Homo sapiens: one gene and its partner. The protein of the gene in region 2 purifies or fractionates together with the protein of the main gene of each other region. This does not show direct contact. Each region holds a gene or a part of one and is shown on either strand. Other genes may lie near its edges.

The links. The genes of interacting proteins can lie anywhere in the genome.
Region 1: the proteins of TRMT5 (region 2) and ZFAND1 fractionate together in Homo sapiens (co-fractionation; one large-scale study listed by BioGRID). This does not show direct contact.

Annotation. Positions count from the first base shown.
Region 1 is NC_000008.11:81,700,837-81,704,300, forward strand, and holds the end of ZFAND1 (AN1-type zinc finger protein 1), read right to left. Parts: intron 2,289-3,464; coding exon 2,133-2,288; coding exon of another isoform or gene 2,085-2,132; exon of another isoform or gene 2,078-2,084; intron 2,030-2,077; coding exon 1,859-2,029; 3' UTR 501-1,858; downstream 1-500. UniProt on the Homo sapiens protein: Plays a role in the regulation of cytoplasmic stress granules (SGs) turnover. SGs are dynamic and transient cytoplasmic ribonucleoprotein assemblies important for cellular protein homeostasis when protein production is suspended after acute exogenous stress.
Region 2 is NC_000014.9:60,971,080-60,974,579, forward strand, and holds the end of TRMT5 (tRNA (guanine(37)-N(1))-methyltransferase), read right to left. Parts: 3' UTR 362-3,500; downstream 1-361. UniProt on the Homo sapiens protein: Involved in mitochondrial tRNA methylation. Specifically methylates the N1 position of guanosine-37 in various tRNAs. Methylation is not dependent on the nature of the nucleoside 5' of the target nucleoside.

The DNA of each region.
Region 1 (3,464 bases), on a different chromosome or scaffold from region 2:
GCTGAGGCAGGAGAATCACTTGAACCTGGGAAGCGGAGGTTGCAGTGAGCCAAGATCACACCACTGTACTCCAACCTGGGCAACAAGAGTGAAACTCCACCTCAGAAAAAATAAATAAATAAATAAATAAAATAAGAGAGAATCTCCTCCTAGTGAAGATGCTAAGAACATTGTTGAAATGGTAACAAAAAATTTAGATATTCCATTATCTTAGTTGATAAAGCTGTGGCAGGGTTTAAGAGGATTGACTTCAATTTTGAAAGAGGTTCTACTCAGGAAAAAATGCTATCAAAAGCATTGCATGCTACACAGAAATCTTTCATGAAAAGAAGAGTCAATCAATGTGGCAAACTTCACTGTGGTCTTATTTTAAGAAGTTGTCACAGCCACCCCAACCTTCTGTAACTACCGCCCCAATCAGTCAGTAGCTATTGAAATTAGGCAAGACCCTCCATCAGCAAAAACATTACAAATTGTTGAAGGCTCAGATATTATTAGCATTTTTTAGCAATAAAGTATTTTTTTACTTAAAGTATATACATTTTTTAGACATAATGCTATTGCACATTAAATAGACTATAGTATAGTGTAAACATAATTTTTATATGCCCTGGGAAACAAAAAAAAATTTGTCTGGCTCAATATACTCCAATATTTGCTTTGTGTGGTAGTCTGAAACTGAACCCACAATATTTCCAAGGTATACCTGTATGTATACATATCATCATTGTATTAATCATGGCAATTAGGACAAATCCCTACATTTAGTGGGAACTCAAATAACTATGCTAATGAATGAAAGTACAAGAACATAATAAAAGTTGGAAATTATCTCCATTCCTCACATAAAAATAATATGAAGAATTAGAAAGGAAATAAACCAAATGAGCATTCCAAATTTATTCCTTTTAAGTAAACCTATAGCCACTACATATGTCCCTGACAATTAGAACAGAAAACAAAAAAAGGACAAATAGAAATACTTTCCATTCTGTCTATATAGTAGTAGTTTTGGGGGTATAGATAGTAAACACTAGTCAAGAATACTCGTCTAAATATGTTGGTAAAATGTAGTCATCATTTGGCATGTGTTTTGCTTTGGTATATAATGAAGTTGAGCTATCCCATCTTTCTTCTCTATGGAATATAGTCACACAAACAAAAAAGATGAATCTCACTAGAGGTGGGTCTTTATCAGAAATATGCCCCAATCTAGTTAGGTAATAGAAAGAAAATCATTTTCTCCTCCTAGGCCTAAGATTCTTCATGTAAAAATTATAAGACTGAATAAAGATCACTTCTAAGTTTCTATAATTCATGTAGATATATCAATTTATACATCATGATGTAGACAGACAGCAAGGCTATACTTTCTGGCTCCATGATGCTAGGCTTGGCCACATGACTTGCTTAAAGCACGTATGATACATGCATCTTTTAAGAGAAAACCGAAGTGTATTTCATCTCTTTCTCTCTCTGCTAAAACAATCACAATGTCCCAAAAGAGATCCCTTCCTTTGCCTTTGATCATGGTAAGAAGATGACACAAAGCAGTGTCACAGCCAATCAACAGCTGACATCCCCCACCAGGAAATACATCTTTGTTGTTGTCACTACAGCATAAACTAATGAAAGCTAATTAAATATAAGAATTTGCTAATAATTGAGGATCCGTACACAATTAAACTTAAAACCAAAAAACTCTAATAGAAAACTCATAATTTAAAATGTGACATAAGGGGAAATAAGTTAAAAAGCAACTTTTAAAAATTACAAAAATAGTATTTGTAGTAAAATAAATGGACTTAAACATGTAATAGAATTTTCCCTGTGATTTCTGACTTGAATCTTTGAATGACTATTCCAAGTAAGATTCAACATTTTTACAGAATTGTTCTTCATCATTAAGATATTCCAAGATTATATTTCCACCATTATATAAAGGACAATCCTCCTTAGCAATCCAGGTTTCCAAAGTATGATCCAAGGGTAAGGCTTCTCCTGAAGTAATGTGACACAGCCTTAATTTCTGTGAAGGGAGAAGTAAGTCATACTGTAATAAATAAACATGCTTGAATGGAGCATCATAAAACCTTTATTAATATAGAAATATTATTATAATGAGATGTTACCTTAGCTGTAAATTTGTTATTGTCATTTTTAAGCCTGGCTAGAGAAGCGGCAAAGTCTATGGCCTTTCCAATGCTCCATCGGTGGCAAAAGAACATTGGTTTGCTCTTCTCTTTGCTCCCTTTAGGTAAGAAAACCTGAAAGTAAATTCTTTCTGTCTGTAAAAAGAAAAAGTTAAAACAACCATTACATAGACAAAATAGACATCAGTTTTTGTCTGGTGCCAACCGTTCCTCTCTTCTGGTCAGAGCAGAATTACCTTCTAACAAGGTATCTGCTACTTGGAATACCAATCACAGTAGCCAAAAACACACATAAATGCATGGGCATAGGACCAAGACCCTGGCCAGGGTGATCTGTGCAAAGACAGATATGTGGCCTAAGTTAGGCCAATCAGATCTGTTCCTGGGATTTTATGTTCAACAGCTTAGGAGACAAAGAGCACTCTCCTTATTTATTTATTTATTTATTTTTGAGAGGGAGTTTCGCTCTTGTTGCCAACGCTAGAGTGCAATGGCACGTTCTTGGCTCACTGCAACCTCCGCCTCCAGGGTTCAAGTGATTCTCATGCCTCAGCCTCTGAGTAGCTGGGATTACAGGCACGTGCCACCAGGCCCAGCTAATTTTTGTACTTTTACTAGAGACGGGCTTTCACCATGTTGTTCAGGCTGGTCTTGAACTCCTGACCTCAGGTGATCCACCCGCCTCGGCCTCTCAGAGTGCTGGGATTACAGGAGTGAGCCACCACACTCGGCCTCTCCTTATTTTTTTAAGTTTTATCAAATTAAACCTGGAGTTGCCTACAGCAAACCCCGTCACCTAACAGCCATTCCTGAACCAATGTGGAAAAAGTTTCCTCGAATGGGAAAAAATGAGGTCAATGTAGAAAGAGAAATAACAAGAAAACAGATGAGCTCTTTCAACATAATCTGAGTTCCTGAATTCATCCCCTAAGACCAGATCAATTCATTATTCCCCATTATATGAGGAAAAAAGTTTGTTTTGATTTTCCTAGTTGGAATCAAGTTTCCGTCACTTGCAATTCAAAGATTTCTGACACATACAACATTTCTTTTTATGTGAAAGACCTCACTATGTATTTAGACAGAAGGACTTTTCGGAACAAGGAAACATTAAAAACAAAAAAAAAAAAAGAGATAGAAAAAGACCTCCAAACCCCAAGTACCTTATCAACAAAAGAAAGGACTTGGAAAGGATTTCTCTAGTATTCTATATCTTATCTGCCCTCTCCTTATATTGTATTTTCTTGCCTAATTAACAAATGGATGGCTGAGCATGATGGCTCATGCCTATAATCCTAGCACTTCGGGAGG
Region 2 (3,500 bases):
ATGGAGACAAGAGTCTTACCACTTTACATGTATAAATAAGAACATCATTTGTACACATACTTTATAACCTAGGACATCAGTGTACAATACTTGGGCTGTTTCAAAACAATTTGAATTAAGTAAGAATGAGTGTTCCAGTTCATTACATCCCTATACTGCTTATCATTTATTGCCTTCATTTGTTTACATGACCTGCCAGACTTCTGAAGGCATTTGAATTTGTAATTAATGATCTAGATTAGGGTTCTTAAACATTTTCTGTAGGGCCAGATAGTAAATATTTTAGGCTTTGCAGGGTAACAAGCAAAATCGTGGATATTATGTAGGTACTTACAGAACAAGCTAAAACAAATTGCCACACTTTTTTTTTTCTTTCAAACTGTATCCAGCTTTATTAAAGATACTTTCCATAAACAATCATGGTATTTCAGGCAGGACATGGGCAGACAGTCATTAACAGTATACAACTTTCAAACTCTCTTCTTCAATGGACTACCAAAAATCAGCCGCTATAAAACCCAATGAAGTCCTCATCTGATGCTCTGAACAGGGAAAGTTTAGAGGGTTAACATTTCACATTTAGCATGTTGTTTAACAACTTTTCACAAGCCAACCCTGACTTTCAGGAAGTGAAATGAAAATGGCAGAATTTATCCGAAGATCCATAATCTAGAAATGGAACCACTGCTCTTTTGACAGGTGCCATCTCAGTGGCATCACTGGAAAGTCCAGATTGCCAGACACACTGGTAACCAATGACCGGGGGTCAGGTCCCAACAGATGTCTGGGCTTAAGGGGATTAAGTCTATGCTGAAAGATGGAAAGGGAAAAGAAGACATAAAAACGAATTTGTTTTTCCATACCACAAGGCTTTTGTGCCAAGGTGGCCATGTGTGTCAAAGTCAGGAAATCCCTCCTCCTGGGAGCCAAGAGGAAGTCTCTCAAAACTAGAAGGGAAAGATGTTTTCCCCGTATCAATCCAGCTTCAGAGATATTCTATTAGTGACACATACCCCTTCCCCCAAAAACAACAATGAAGTGTTCTGTGTGCTAACAACATAGCTTAAAAAAAGTAAAACAAAATTCTGCATTTTTATAAAACTTGATAAAGAATATTTCAAACTGTACAGTCACCAGAAGTACAGTTATAAAAAATGCACACACTTCACTTGGGATCTCCAGCACCTTCCCGCTCCTTGCCAGCATCAGCTTTTCTCTTTTTCCCTTTGGGTACCTTCTCTCCCTTCTTTGCAGGGGCCTTTTTAGGCTTGGGCTCTGGCTTTGGAGGAGCAGGTTTAGCAGACAACCTCGCAGATCTTCTCTGTGATTCATCCTTCACCTTGGCTTTATCTCCTTTAGCATCCCCTTCAGTCTTTCTCTTGGGCATGGCGGCGGCGGCGGCGGCGGGATGTGGGCACCGGGTGTGGGACGCAGCAGCGCGCGGGCTTTGGTCGGTCCAGGGGTCGTTCTTGCCTCTTCTCCTTCACACTGCTCCCACGCTTTTTTAATTGACAAAATTCAAAATATAGCCCAATTTTTTGTAATGCCTTTTTTGGTGAGAATAACATTGCCTCTAATCAGGGTTCTAAGTAAGTGTTCCCTGTGATCAAAATCAGTTGTAAATGATTGCCTATTAATGGTTATCATTAACCATCATTAACCATTAATACTAATGGTAATAAGATTTTACACATTTCATCTTTAAAAATGTCTTCTCATACAGATAGGTATTGCCAAATACTGCTATCAATCCAGGAGCATATGAAATTAACTGAGCATATTCATCACTTGGAAAGCATTTGTAAAATTCTTTTACATTTCTTCCCTTGAAATTTGCCTTTTAGCATGTCATTATTTTAATCACTTCTTACTGAAAATTAGGTTGAATCACCTCAATTGCAGTTAAATAGATTTTGAAACAGGGAAATTTCCTTTGCACTTGCACCTAGGTCCCTAAAAATGCTGAACTCAGAAAATATACTCACTAAAATTTGTGGGAATGGAAATCTTGTTTCTTTCTCTTTGATAGTATGACAAATGTGTAAGGATATTGTCATCAAATATTGTGATTCAAATATCGATTGTCAAAATGACTGTACCATATCAAAGTTGTTTTGCCTTGTGTTTTAGGCCATTCTTGCATTGCTATAAAGAAATACTTGATACTGGGTAATTTATAAGAAAAGAGGTATAATTGGCTCACAGTTCTCCAGGCTATAGGAAGCATAGCACTGGCATCTGCTTCTGGGGAAGCCTCAGGAAGCTTTTACTCATGGTAGAAGGCAAAATAGGAGAAGGCACTTCACATGGCGAAGGCAGGAGCAAGAGAGTGTGGGGGGCGAGTGCCACATACTTTGAAACAACAAGATCTCATAACTCATTATCTTAAGGACACCACCAAGGGGATAGTGCTAAACCATTCACGAGGGCCACATATAAGGGCTCACACCTGTAACCTTCACACATTGGGAAGCCGAGATGGGAAGATCTCAAGCCTAGGAGTTCAAGGTTACATTGAGGTGTAACTGTGTCTCTACACTCCAGCCTGGGCAACAGAGCAAGACCCTGTCTCTAAGTAAAAATAAAAATAGAGTCAAAGAACCATCCAGAATCATTTCCTTTTTAAAGTGACTATTTATGTCGCTTTCAATGTCCTTAACTCTTTAAGCAACTGTTCTTGCCAAAGGCCAGTAATCTTAAGTTTATTTTCTCTGGATATATTCAGCTGCTGCATCCAAACATAATTAATTCACACCATCAATAAATGGCTTTGCTTGGCTAACAAATGATTGACTTAGAGACTTACTGTTGTTGCAGCCTCATTTTCATTTTGTGAAGAAATTCTGCTTTGTTATTTCCATTTTAAATTTTCTAATTTTTCTAACAGTTGCTTGCCTGTGAGTTGGGAATACTGTGATGAGTGGTTTGTCTGGTAATGTCAATGGTTATTCTTTTAGCTTAGCTATATAGATGCTTTGTCGTCTAATTCAACATCAAAATAATTCACACCCTACTGTACTTTAAAAATAACAACAAAGTCCACTTTTCTTGTTTTGCTATAATAGATATGCTCTGGTAATAAAAAATAAAATGTGGGTTCATGTGATATACATGGCACTCAAAATGCTGTCGTTACAACCACATCAGTGATTTGTGATGTGTCAAACAGCAGTGTGAAGTGATGACAGTCACATTCAGTGTGTGTTGCAACCACTCAACTCTGCTATTGTTCAAGAAAGCAGCTGCAGTCCTCACTTCAGCAGCACATATACTAAAAAACTGGAATGGTACAGAGAAGATCAGAATGGTCCCTGCGCAAGGATGACATGCAAATTCGTGAAGCGTTCCATATTAAAAACAAAAAACAGCTGCAGATGATATGTAAACAAATGAGCATGGTATGTTCCAATCAAACTTTATGAACTCTGAAACTCTTAATTTCATACAATTCTAATTTTTAAAACTGATACATAATAGATGTCATAAAATTTTCACGTCAC